2 separate regions of the Homo sapiens genome follow, and region 2 is linked to region 1. The links come from fine-mapping of genetic effects on gene expression. A gene starts in region 1. The other region holds a variant in brackets. All regions are shown on one strand. Distances are from middle to middle. Region 1 holds the start of KIF1C (kinesin family member 1C). Region 2 overlaps LOC105371501 (a long non-coding RNA gene).

Evidence for each region. PIP is the estimated chance that this variant, and not a neighbour inherited with it, causes the effect.
Region 2: its variant is the best candidate, but not a certain one, in a credible set for the expression of KIF1C in esophagus mucosa (GTEx, PIP 0.51).

The regions. Positions count from the first base shown.
Region 1 is chr17:4,996,615-4,999,114 of GRCh38, reverse strand. KIF1C (kinesin family member 1C) reads right to left here and starts at 1,165. Exons shown (of 23, transcript NM_006612.6): 1 at 959-1,165. INCA1 (inhibitor of CDK, cyclin A1 interacting protein 1) reads left to right here and starts at 1,593. Exons shown (of 7, transcript NM_001394789.1): 1 at 1,593-1,619. RefSeq lists silencers at 703-802, 853-1,722, 1,763-1,852.
Region 2 is chr17:5,048,099-5,051,102 of GRCh38, reverse strand. The region is part of intron 3 of LOC105371501 (a long non-coding RNA gene); the gene reads right to left. Among named protein-coding and RNA genes, the nearest start is that of SLC52A1, 14 kb to the right of the region's middle. The variant T/C (reference allele first, on the strand shown) is at 1,464.

The DNA of each region.
Region 1 (2,500 bases):
AGGGTGGGGTCATCCTGTAGCCATCAGACCAACCCTCAGGGCTCCACCCTTGGGGCGCCCAGAAATACCTGTGTTTGAGGGTAGAGGGTCCCTGGGGCCTCCCTAAAAGGGAGAAAGAAAAGGAAGCCGGCTGGCTGGTGCCAGCCCCAACCTGGGGCTAGTGCTATGGCGTCCACTGCCCTGGGGAAGGTGCCAGGCTGGAGCCCAGGAATGTGGGTGATCGGGTGCCCACACCCTGGGAGGAGAGGCTGAGCAGCCCACGCCCACGGACAACAGGGAGGAGGACCACGAAGGATAAGGGATGCGGAGCCCCCTCCTGTGGCCCCAGTGGACCCCAAACTCCTGTCACGCTGGGCCTCCCCTCACCAGTCTTCCTGGGCAGAGCATGGGAGGGTGAGGGGCTGGTCTGTCCCAGGACAGGAAGGGAGTAGCTGGAATCACAGAAGCTGGCTCAGGAAGAACAGCCCTGACCCCCTAGACCCTGACCAGGGGAGGGAAGGACACTGGTGGGGACAAGCGATGGTGACGCCGTTGCTGCAGCTAATGGGACAGGGATGGGGTGGCACGGCTGGGGGCCAGCGGGGTAAGGGAATAGAGGTAGGGACAGGGGTCGGCCGGTGCAGCTGTGAAGGAGCCGTGGGGTACAAGGAGGATACTGGGCGGCTGGGGTGGGGCCGACCGGCCCGAAAGGGGGTCTTGGGCCACCTGCACCTTGCCCACCCGGCGGTTCTCACACAGGTCCCCGCCCGGCCTCTCAGGGCGGCCATGCGGACCCGTCCTCCTGTCCAGCCAGCCGGCGGCCGCCCGGGCCTGGCACCTCTCTGCGCCTCCGCGGAACAAACAGCACATGATCCCGACTCTTGAGCCTAGATCGCGCCGCCGGACCCCGGCTCCCCGCCCCCCAACCCGGCACATTCCTCCGCGGGCGTCCCTTCCCTCCCCCTTCCCCAGCCCTCACCTCGGCGCGGCGGGGCTCCCGGAGCAGCTCGGCGGAGAGGGACAAGCTTTCCGGGAAGCGTGAGGCGGAAGCGGGAAGGATCTGGGGCCGGTTCGGAGCTGCCCCCGCCCCTCGCCGGGTGCCCGGGCGGCGGGCGGCGGACTCGCGCCCCGGGGGCGGCAGCAGTAGCGGCGCCAGCGGCCGGCGCCCGCCCGGGCAGCGCGAGCTGGGGCGGGAGCGAGGGGCGGGGGACGCGCGAGCGCGCGCGGAGGGGCGGGTACGCGCGGTCCCGGGAAGGAGCCGGGAGCGACCCGGGCTACTCTTGTTAAAGGGGCAACGCTCCTGGCCTGTGGGGCCCAGCGAGCGGGAACGTGGGGACCGAGCTGCGGACGCAGAAGGGCGAGCAGACGCCGCAACCCAGGAGGGTTGCAGACGCCTGAAGAACAGGGAAACGTCGGGGGCTGACCCGCGGGGGCACCCAGGCCCCGGCCCAGTTCCCGTCGCCGCCGTTGGAGGCGCGTCCAGGGGGCGGAGCCTCCTGCCGAGGCCCGCCCAGAAGGTGGCTCCGCTCAGGCCCCGCCCTCAGACGAGCACCGCCCGCCGGCTCCTCCCGCGGCTCGAATCGCCGTCTCTCTCCTCCCCGCCCCGCCGAGTTCTAGAATTCGCCGCGCAGCTGCTTCAGGTGCTGGGGCCAAATGCGGCCGGCCGTGGCGCGGCTACTCGGGCGCTCTGTCCCCGCCTGGCCCTCAAGTTCGGCCGCCCTGGACGCCGCCTGAGGCCCAAACAACCCCTTCAGGCCCGGGTGCCGCCTAAGGCCGGAGCTGCCCTCTCAGACCCGGGGCGTCCCTCAGGCCCCAGCCTGCCCTTCAGCCTGGGCCCACCACCTCAGGGCCCCTCTCGAGGGAAGCAGCCCCCAGTCGTGCCCTCGGGCGGGGCTGCCCGGAAGGTCCGGCCACGCCCGGTCCACCTGTCGAGGGTCCCCGTCGCCCTTTCAGGCGCAGGCCGCGCCCTCCGGCCCGGCGCTTCCCTCCAGCGGGGCTCCAGGCAGCCCCTCAGCCCCAGCCGGACCCTCGGGTCCTCATCCACCCTCGCAGGCGCAGGCCGTGGCTACCCCGAAGTCAACTGTGGAGGATCCTTCCTGGCTTCCTTCAGCTCCATCCTGCCCTTGGATCTAGGTCACCCGCTTGGACCCAACTATCTGAGGCCCGAATGCCCCGCAGCTCCCGCTGCTCCCTCGCGTTCTGCTGACCCCCCTCCGAGTCAGGACATCCCCTTTAGACCCCACTTTAGGCCCTTTCAGCCCAACTCCAACTAGCCCCATCTGCCGCTTCCGCACGGTATACTTCTCTCCGCTTTTGACCTCACCTGCTTTCCCAGCCCATCCCTAGTTCCCTTGGATAAATACTAGTTCACCTCTACAGTTCCAGCTGGCTGCTTCTGTCCTTCGGGAGCCTATGTGCACTCTCTCCTAACTTATCTAGTATTCTTTTTTTTTTTTTTTTTTTTTTTTTGAGACGGAGTCTTGCTCTGTTGCCCAGGCTGACCTCGGCTCACGGCAACCTC
Region 2 (3,004 bases), 52 kb before region 1:
AACCTGTATCTTTTATTTTCTTTCTTTCCTTTTTTTTTTTTTTGATACGGAGTTTTCCTCTTGTCGTCCAGTCTGGAATGCAATGACATGATCTCGGCTCACCACAATCTCCGCCTCCCGGGTTCAAGCAATTCTCCTGCCTCAGCCTCCCGAGTAGCTGGGATTACAGGCATGTGCCACCATGCCCGGCTAATTTTGTATTTTTAGTAGAGACAGGGTTTCGCCATGTTGGTCAGGCTGGTCTCGAACTCCTGACCTCAGGTGATCCACGCCCCCTTAGCGTCCCAAAGTGCTGGGATTACAGGCACGAACTACTATGCCTGGGATTAACCTGTATCTTTTGACTTATTAACTTGTCTGTGCTTACTGGAGTGGCACTCTGAGCTGAGCCTGGACAGGTGAGACTATTTCTAGAGGTTTGTCTATTCTATATATTTCATATAAACAGGATCATACAATATGTTGGAATTGCATCTTTATGTCTCTTTTCAGTAGTCCAATGGCACAATCTCAAAAACAGTCTAACTTCTGAACTTTTGCATACTGTTTGTTTGTGTTCTTCACATCTGGATTTGGCGTTCCCACGCTGGAATGCTGTTTGGGGGGATGATACGCAATCTTCTCTCAGTCTCCATGGTAATCGCTCTGAACTCACCGCCCAGCTGTAGGGCAGCGCTTGCATGTGATCATGATAAACTGCAATATGCATTCAACTGAAATAGAAAAGCAGCTCAAGGATGCACAGCGAAGCTGTGGTTTTTTTTGTTTTTGTTTTTGTTTTTTTGTTTTTTTTTGAGACGATGTTTTGCTCTTGTCGCCCAGGCTGGAGTGCAATGGCAAGATCTCGGCTCAGTGCAACCTCCGCCTCCCAGGTTCAAGTGATTCCATGCCTCAGCCTCCTGAATAGCTGGGATTACAGATGCCTGCCACCACACCCGGCTAATTTTTGTATTTTTAGTAGAGACGGGTTTTCACTGGTCTCGAACTCCTGACTTCAGGTGATCCACCTGCCTCGGCCTCCCAAAGTGCTGGAATTACAGGTTTGAGCCACCGCATCTGGCCTGCAGTGAAGCTTTCTAAGTCTATCTTTTCCTTTCTCCTTTCCTTCCTCGTGTCCCAAAGGCAGGAATATGCCCCTCCTCTTGAAGTTCCTCTGATTGTCCAGTCCTCCACGGAAAATCTTATTATTTGTTTATCAGACCAGAAGCAAAATAAATGCCCTTGAAAGGTGACAAGCAACAGCGTGAGGAGGACCTCGCTTGCCCAGGCAGCTTCCTCCAATCCCACCCTTGCCCCACACCAGAACAGAGGATAATTTCAGCACCCGTGCCTGGGAAGACACCCAAAATGAGTGTCTGTAGTTTGTCCCCTCTTTGAAAGAATGCAGGGCTTGAGAAGGCTCACTTTCCCTGCAGGCCTCTGTCTGGTGCCAGATGTAGGCTCTGTGAAAAGAAGCACAGCTA[T/C]AACCGGGAGCCTTAAAATAGTCAAAGTTTCTATAACAGAAATTATTAGTGGTGTAGGGGAGCAAAAACAGGCAAAAGAATAGCTGCTTTGAGCTTCAGGCTTTCATTGTGGTTAATAGACAATTGAAATCAAAGAAACATGTTTACTTCTTTTTTCTTTTCTTTTTTTTTTTTTTGACAGGATGTTGCTCAGACTGGAGTGCAGTGGTGCGATCTGGGCTCACTGAGGCCTCAAACTCCTAGGCTCCAGGCTGGGGTGCTGTGGTGTGAACTCAGCTCACCGCAACCTCCACCTCTGGGCTCAAGCGATTCTCCTGCTTCAGCCTCCTGAGTAGCTGGGACTATAGGTACACACCACCACACCTGGCTAATTTTTTTTTTTTTTTTTTTTGAGACAGAGTCTTCCTCTGTCACCAGTCTGGAGTGCAGTGGCATGATCTTAGCTCACTGTAACCTCCGCCTCCTGGGTTCAAGCCATTCTCCTGGCTCAGCATCCCGAGTAGCTGGGATTACAGGCGCCCACCACCACACCCAACTAATTTTTGTATTTTTAGTAGAGACAGGGTTTCACCATGTTGGTCAGGATGGTCTTGGTCTCCTGACCTCGTGATCTGCCCACGTCGGCCTCCCAAAGTGCTGGGATTACAGGTGTGAGCCACCGCTCCTGGCATTTTTTTTCTGTAGAGATGGGGTTTTGCCATGTTGCCCAGGCTGGCCTCGAACTCCTGGGCTCAAAGCAATCCTCCCTCCCCGGCCTCCCAAAGTTCTTGGATTACAGCATGAGCCACCATGCCTGGTGGAAATCCATGTGGAACATGTTTGTTTTCCCTCCACTGGGTTGTAGCCCAGCTTTCACTCCACTATTTGTGTTATTTCTCCACCTCCCACTTCAGCACCTCAGTCTCTTTCATCCTAAGAAAATCCACCTCACCCTGTGGAATTAAAAACATTTAAACCAGCCAGGCACGGTGGCTCACGCCTGTAATCCCAGCACTTTGGGAGGCCGAGGCAGGTGGATCACCTGAGGTCAGGAGTTCAAGACCAGCCTGACCAACATGGTGAAACCCCGTCTCTACTAAAAATACAAAAATTAGCTGGGCATGGTGGTGGGCGCCTGTAATCCCAGCTACTCGGGAGGCTGAAGCAGGAGAATCGCTTGACCCCAGGAGGCGGAGGTTGCAGTGAGCCGAAATCGCACCATTGCACTCCAGCCTGGATGACAAGAGCAAGACTCCATTTAAAAACAAAACAAAACAAAAAACAAAACAAAAAAAAACCCTTTAAACCAAAGAATTTGGATGCAGATTGAAATGGTTAGAAAATGTGGCCGGGCATGGTGGCTCACGCCTGTAATCCGAGCACTTTGGGAGGCGGAGGCAGGTGGATCACCTGAGGTCAGGAGTTCAAGACCATCCTGGCCAACATGGTAAAACCCCGTCTCTACTAAAAATACAAACATTAGCAGGTGTGGTGGTGTGCGCCTGTAATCCCAGTTACTTGGGAGGCTGAGGCAGGAGAATTGCTTGAACCCAGGAGGCCGA